Linked DNA regions of Homo sapiens. The protein of the gene in region 2 purifies or fractionates together with the protein of the main gene of each other region. This does not show direct contact. Each region holds a gene or a part of one and is shown on either strand. Other genes may lie near its edges.

Region 1 (3,909 bases), on a different chromosome or scaffold from region 2:
TCTGGTCTGGCAGGGGGAGATGGAGAAAGAACCAGATAGTTGTGCCTCAATTTCTAACCTGTAAAATGGAAATACTAGGGGTTGTGGTGAGGCTGAAATGAGTAAAAAGGGCAATGCCCAGCCCCTGGCTCAGTCGATGGTGCTGAGACCAACACCTGTGTTACTATTATTGATAGGAAAGGTGTTGACTTCGTGTCTCTCTTGGTCTTTGGGGCAGTGAGCACTCATGGGGCGGGGGCTCTTACGCGGAGCCTGGCTTTGTGGCCTTGATGAACCAAAACATCTCATTCCTTTACCTGCCAACTATGTACTCATGTATCATAAGCCAGCCTCCGTGCTCCTGGGCCTGGCATATCTGCCAGGGTTCAGGCTGGGCCCCCAACTGCCCCCTGGAGGACATGTCAGGCCCCGAGTTCCCACCGAATGACACCCCGCACCTCCCGCTGGCCCTGCTTCCTTGAGGAGCACCCTGTTTGCAGCGAACAGCTGCTGAAATCCCACTTCCCCGACATCAAAAGCCTCAGTGGGTTTTCACCAAACAAACATAATGCAGAACCGGAGAAAGGTGTAAAATAAATAAACGAAACAAGCTGTGCATTTTCTTTCAGTATTACAGCTGCACCCGAAGATAAACAACAAGTGAATGTCACCAAACATCAATACCCGAGAAATTAACTTGACAAAAAGCTCAGCCATCCCCCGACAACCCCCCAGTCCTGCCCCCCTCCCCACCAACCTCCAACCACCATTTTTGCATTTCTGGAGTTCCCACCTAATGATTTTATTTTTCAATTAATTCCTTGACAGAATGCCAGCCTGTGTCTCTCCCTTCCCTGGCTGGCGCTGTCGGCCCTGCATGGGAGGCGCAGGCAGGCAGGGAGAAAGGCGCAGGCAGGGAGAAAGGGCGGGGGGGCGGGGGGGTGCGTCGGGAGGACAAGAGAAAGCGCTTCTTGGGGTTTTGTTCTGGAAGCAGACGTTGAGGAAAGGCAAGCCGGGGGAGAAGAGCGTGGCTGATAAGGGGAGAAGGGAGTTCTGAAAGGAACCCTGGGATGAGGCAGGCGTGAACAGTCCGGGGAGGGGAAAAGCACTGGGCCAGGAAGCCCAGGGCTGGATTCTGAGTGGAGAGGCCTGAGGTACAGGGTGGAGGGTGCTAGATGCAGGGTGCTGGGTGGGTGAGCTGCCAGGATCAAACCCTGCTGCTCCTGGCTGGGCAACCTTGGGTAAGTTGCTTCACCTCTCTGGGCTCCTCTCAGTTTCTGCAGTTACTGAATGGTGATGAAATCTACACGCCTAGGGTGTGTGAGGGTATTAAAAGAATGAATATATGTATGTAAGGCCCTCACAATAGTGCCTAGCACACGGCAAGCTGTCAATATAGGTTGGTCATTCTTACTGCTGTTGATGGAATCTGTTACTGAGAGCACGAGGGTGGGCTGCTCCCCTCCTCTATAACACGATGATAGCAACAGCAGCTCTCGACTCTGTCTCAAAAAAAAAAAAAAAAAAAAAAGTGACCAATGGGATGGAGCAGGGCCTCCCACTGTGGGCCCACAGAAGAGTGTCTGGATTTGCTGACATGATTTGCCATGAATACAGAAATCAGTGACTAATGTTCAAAAACAGGGAGATGCTACATAAGAATCTGCACCTCTCGTTTCTCTTGAACCTGGAATGGCTAACCTGTGAGTGTGGCAGACCTGTCCCCTCCCTGCCTACAGGTAACTGATGAGGCTGTGCACTAGCTGCCCCTGGAGACACGCAGCCTCACTTATGGGGGCTTTTCTTCCTGTTCCTGGAGGCTCCTGAGTTGCTACTTCCCGAGACACAGGATAGGCAAGGCTTCCACAAACTCCGCTAAGTCGGAGACAGAACTGATTCCAAGAGGCCGGGGTGAAGGGCAGGGGGCGGGGGCACAGGTGGGCGAGGGGAGGAAGGAGGTTGGGGCAGAGTGTGGAGGCCAGAATGAGGCTCCACAATCTTCAGACTCAGTGGTGTGCAGTCCTAGGCTGCTGGGGGACACCAGCCACCTGTAGCTCCCACCCTTGGGGAGTATGAGGGTGCCATGATGTGGGTACCGCAGGGGGGCTGGGCACCCGGGGGCTGGCCTGGCTTGGGAGGCTGCCTGCTCTGGAAGGCTGGCTGAACCAGACCCCCACCCTCAGCTGCTGGTGCCTCTGCATGGGTCTCTCCCTGTCCTCCCTGGCTTCATATCTTGCAGCCCCCACGGGCAGAGCTCTCCTACCCAGATAGGTCTGCATCTCAGGGCTCTGTGTACAGCAGGCACACATCAGGTACGCACAGAATAAAGGGTACTCTTCAGGAGACTGGCCTGGCTCCTAAGACCAAGCCAATGTCCCTTTATTGATACAGGAGGCTGTTTTAGGGCTGTGCCTTTTTTTTTTTTTAAATAGACAGAATCACACTGTCACCCAGGTGAGTGCAGTGGAGCGATCTCGGCTCACTGCAACCTCTGCTTTCCGGGTTTGAGTGATTCTTGTGCCTCAGCCTCCCAAGTAGCTGGGATTACAGGCGTACACCACCAGGCCCAACTAATTTTTGTATTTTTAGTAGAAATGAGATTTCACCATGTTGGACATGAGCTCAAGTGATCCACCCGCCTTGGCCTCCTAACGTGCTGGGATTATAGGCATGAGCCACTACGTCCAGCCAGTTGTGCCTTTTTAAAACACAGCGAGTCCTTCTAAGAACTAGGTATGATCTGAGAGGGTCCTTGTGCAGAGCGGGTGGGCAGGAGCCTGGGCCGCAGACTGGCCTCTGCCACTGTGGGACTCCCAGGAGCTGCTAAGCTCCTTACCTCAGTGTTCCCACCTGTTAAACGGGGACGGTGCCTGCTCTGCTTATCTCATGGGGACCGTAAGGATTCCTGCCTTCAGTCACTCTTAGCAAGCATGACCCAGCATATTCTATGTGCCAGGAATGATGCTGGGGATATGGCAGTGAACAAAACTCCACAGGATAAACTAAACCACCAGCCATGGGGGCCACACTGGGGCTCAGGGTGGACAGGACGAGGTGGGACCTGAGTGCTGCCACTTGGTGGTCCCAGCCTTCTCTGAGTTACCAAAGTTACTCTTCTGCAGACAGGACACAGTAGTAGCACCCACCACAGGGGATTTGATGAGATAAAGCATGAGAGCACTTAGCCCAGGGCCCGGCCCGTTGAGGTGCCAGGCAAACATGAAAGCTAACAATCAAAGGGTCCTGTGAGGCCACCCCAGAGGACAGGCAGTGCCCAGCAAAGGGGAAATCCAGCTGCCCAAGATAAGGCCAAGGGGCGAGCTGCAGGGACCACTCCTCAGGCGCCTGCTGGCTCTAAGCAGCAGGCTGGCTCTGGACTTTCCTACAGAAATTCCACCAGCTAGGCAACATCATTGTCCCACTTTTCAGATGAGGAAGCAGCCGCACTAGGACTCTGAAGAGTCAAGTGGTCACACTTTCCAAGCAGGACCTTGAGCTCAGATAGGGTTGGCTCCAGCCTTACTGGCACAGCATAGCAAAGCCTGCCCCGCAGAGGGGGACACTAGCCCAGCCTCCCTAGGATGGGGGTCTCAACAGGAAAAGCATGAACAGACCCAGGCTATGTAGCAGCAATTTCCTTTTCAAAGGCCATTGGTTCTCAATCCAGCTGTCTGGTAGCATCAGCTAGGAACCCACTGATGCCTGGATCCTACCTCCAGAGGTTCTGATGCAAATGGCCTGGGGTGAGCACGGGATATGATGACTGCTATGATGACTGATGTTATTAATCTTGGTGCTGAGGACCTGGGCTCCCTGAGTGGCTGGAGAGTGGGTCGGTGGGTGGAGTAACTTCCCTCTGTGCTCTGGGTGTCTTGTGTGTGTGCAGAATTCTATGACTGGCCACGCACAACCCCATACACAGGGGCTGGT
Region 2 (3,909 bases):
TATAAAACAAAGGCTGCCATTTTACCCAATCTTAAGTATACAATTCAGTGGCATTACTTACATTCACAACATTGTACAACCATCACCACTATCTGTTTCCAAAACTCCTATCAGGAGGCTACTCACTGACATCATTGAAAACAGAAGCTCTGCAACCACTAATAATTTCCTATAACCCCCCTTCCCCTAGCCCTAAGTAATCTATAATCTATTTCTGTCTCTGTGAATTTGCCTAGCTAGATATCTCAGGTAAGTGAAATCAGACAGTATTTGTCCCTTTGTGTCTGGATTATTTCATTCAGCTTAAGATTTTCAAGGTTCATCCTTATGGCATGTATCAGAACTTCATGGCTGAATAATATTCCATTGTGTGTATATAAACACACACCCCAAATTTTGTTTATCCATTCACTTGTTGATGAACATAGTTTGTTTCCACCTTTTTGCTATTATGAACAGTAATTCAAAGAGCACTGGCATCTAAGTATCTGTTTGAGTCCCTGTTTACATCCTTTACAACAGTGGTCCCCAACCCCAGGCTGCATACCGGTTCCAGTCCATGGCGTATTAGGAACCAGGCTGCACAGCAGGACGTGAGCATTGGGCAACCAAGCATTGCCACCTGTGCTTGGCCTCCTGTCAGATCAGCAGCAGCATTAGATTCTCATAAGAGCACTAACCCTATTGTGAAGTGCGCATGCGAGGGATCTAGGGTGTGCACTCCTTATGAGAATCTAATGCAACCCCCACACCCCAAATGTGGAAACATTGTCTTCCACGATACTGGTCCTTGGTGCCGAAAGGTTGGGGACCGCTGCTTTACAGTATAGAACTAGGAAATGGAACTGCTGAGTCCTGTGGGGTAATTCTGTATTTAGATTTCTGCGGAACCTCCCTGACTTACTTTTCTCCTTCTTCCTCTCTTCTTTGGTCTGGAACCAGCTCCTCTCGGGCTCTTGGACCACTGCCTCCTTCCCCTTCTCCAGGAGCCGCTTTGCTGTATTGATCTGTAGAGATAACAAAAGGATGCCTGCCGTGAAACCCGTATCTACTAACACAGGAAGCCACGGGCTGCAAATGCCTGGGGCTCTGATGGGAGAAACATTTCAGAAGGGCAGCACCAGCAGGGATGCAGCAGCTTGCTTACTGAGCAGCCTTGTGAACAAGATCCCGCCTCGCAGCCTCACCTGGGCTTCTGACTGCTGCATCTCTTTTTCCTCCGCCTCTAGCTGCAGAACTGCATACACATCTTTCTCCATTTTCTCAATCTTGTCCCGGAATTTGAGGATGACATCTCAATGGGAGAAAATAAAAAGGATTTACAAATAAGGGTAGGCCAGGCATGGTGGCTCACACCTGTAACCCGGCACTCTGGGAGATTGAGGTGGGAGGATTGCTTGAGCCCAGGAATTTGAGGCCAGCCTGGGCAACGTGGCCAGACTCTGTCTCTACAAAAAAAAAAAAAAAAAAAAAAAAAGCCAGGCACAGTGGCTCATGCCTGTAATCCCACGCTTTGGGAGGCCAAGGCAGGTGGATCACCTGAGGTCAGGAGTTTGAGACCAGCTTGGCCAATGCTGTGAAACCCCGTCTCTATTAAAAATACAAAAATCAGCTGGGTGTGGGGGCACACGCCTGTAATCCCAGCTACTACTCAGAAGGCTGAGGCAGGAGAACTGCTTGAACCCACGAGGCGGAGGCTGCAGTAAGCCAAGATGACACCACTACACTCCAGCCTGGGCAAAAGAGCGAGACTCCATCTAAAAAAAAAAAAAAAATTAGCCATCATGGTGGCACACACCTGTAGTCCCACCTACTCAGGAGGCTGAGGAGAAGAACTGCTTGAACCCAGGAGTTCGAGGCAACAGTAAGCTATGATCGCACCCCTGTACCCCAGCCTGGGCAACAAAGCAAGACCTTATCTTAAACAAAATAAGGCAGTGGCTCAAGCCTGTAATCCCAGCACTTTGGGAGGCCAAGGCGGGTGGATCACGAGGTCAAGAGATCGAGACCATCCTGGACAACATGGTGAAACCCCACCTGTACTAAAAATATAAAAATTAGCTGGGCGTGGTGGCATGCACCTGTAGTCCCAGCTACTTGGGAGGCTGAGGCAGGAGGATCACTTGAACCCGGGACGCAGAGGTTGCAATGGGCCGAGATCGCACCACTGCACTCCAGCCTGGCAACAGAGCAAGACTCCATCTCAAAAATAAATTAAATAAAATAAAATAAGGGTGACTACTAATACTGTGTAACTGATGAAAATAATTTAGCTGTGCATTTACTGACATAGGAAATGGTGTCTGTAATGTGTGCCTTCTCTGCTTCATATCCCCCAGACTCAGAGTGGCCCCTGCCTACCGCTCTGATCTTCTGTGTGTCCCTGCTCACCACGCCTGAGCCTCCTGACCTTTCTCTTGTTCTCACACACTAAGCTCGTTCCTACCTCACAGCCTCCACCCTTGTTCTCTCAGCTCAGCACTTTGCCCTCAGACCTCTCATGGCTGCCTCATTCCGATCACCCAGGACTCAGCTCCAATGCCAGCTGTGCAGAGGCCTTTCCTTAACAGCTTAATGAGGCAGTCTCCTCCTGCTGTTCTCAATCACATCTACTGTTAGCTTATTTATTGTCTCTTTCTCCCAGAACCACAGCTCTGCTTTGTTCCCTGCTGTATCCCCAGCACCTAGAACAGAATCAATAGCACTAGGCCCACAGCAGGACTCAATAACTAGTCGCTGATTAAATGAAGACAATGAAAATGAAAAAAATAAAAGGGACATTTAAGAAAGGAAAAATGGTTTGAAAAGACATACACCTAAATGCTACCAGTGGTGAGCTCTTTGACACAGAATTACATTTTTTTTTATTTACTAATTTCCAACAATAAATACGTACTTTTCATTTCATTTTTTAGAGACAGGGTCTTGCACTTTTGCCCAGGCTGCAGTGCAGTGGCACAATCATAGCTCACTGCAGCCTCAACCTCCTGGATTTAAGAGATCTCCTGCCTCAGCCTTCTGAATAGCTGGGACTACAGGCACACACCACCATGCCCAGCTAATTTTTTTTTTTTAGAGACAGGCAGCTCACTATATTGCTCAGGTTGGTCTTGAACTCCTGGCCTCTAGCAATCCTCCTGCCTTGGCCTCCCAAAGTGCTGGGTTATAGGCAAGAGCTACCATGCTCAGGCTAAATATGTATTATTTTTATAACTTTAAAAATTTTTAAGGCTGGGCATGGTGGCTCATTACTGTTAATCCCGGCACTTTGGGAGGCAGAAGGTGGGTGGATTGCTTGAGCCTAGGAATTCAAGAACAAAACAAAACAAAAAAAGACTTTAAAGAGGATGTGCTTTATAAGACCCCCACAGATCAGAGGAACAAAATCAATGAAAGGACCCAAAAAGAATGAGTACTGATCTCTCTCTTCCCCACCACCAACAGTAAGGGAAAGAGGAGTTTAGTGAGAATTTTGCCCCAAGCAACCTTCTCTTCTCAATTTCCACCTAAATGGGGCACTGTGTTTACAATTCTGTCATAATTCCCTTCTACACACAGGAGGCAAGCTCAGAGAGGTGAGGTGAAACCTGCACATGGTCACTCGGCAAGGAAGCAGCAGGGCTGGAATTCAAATCTGGCTCTGAACTGCAAAGTACCTGCTCTCAGCCATTACACTCTGTCCTTGCCCCGCCCACCGAGCCATTCTGCACTGCCACAGGGGTGCCTGCTCACCTTGGGGAAGTATCCTGGCCTTCACAGGGGCCTTGGCAGCTTTTACAATCTCCTTCAGCATCTTCCGCTCATCTTCTCCCACCAGAGAGACTGAGCGCCCAGCCCTGCCAGCACGTGCTGTTCGCCCCACCCGGTGGACATAATGTTTGATGGTATTAGGCATTGTGAAGTTGATTA

Evidence for each region.
Region 1: the proteins of DDX27 (region 2) and RBM19 purify together in Homo sapiens (affinity purification with mass spectrometry; 2 studies listed by BioGRID and IntAct, with this or other methods). This does not show direct contact.

Annotation. Positions count from the first base shown.
Region 1 is NC_000012.12:113,826,612-113,830,520, forward strand, and holds part of RBM19 (probable RNA-binding protein 19), read right to left. Parts: intron 1-3,909. UniProt on the Homo sapiens protein: Plays a role in embryo pre-implantation development.
Region 2 is NC_000020.11:49,236,334-49,240,242, reverse strand, and holds part of DDX27 (probable ATP-dependent RNA helicase DDX27), read right to left. Parts: coding exon 3,733-3,909; intron 1,295-3,732; coding exon 1,188-1,294; intron 1,008-1,187; coding exon 905-1,007; intron 1-904. UniProt on the Homo sapiens protein: Probable ATP-dependent RNA helicase. Component of the nucleolar ribosomal RNA (rRNA) processing machinery that regulates 3' end formation of ribosomal 47S rRNA.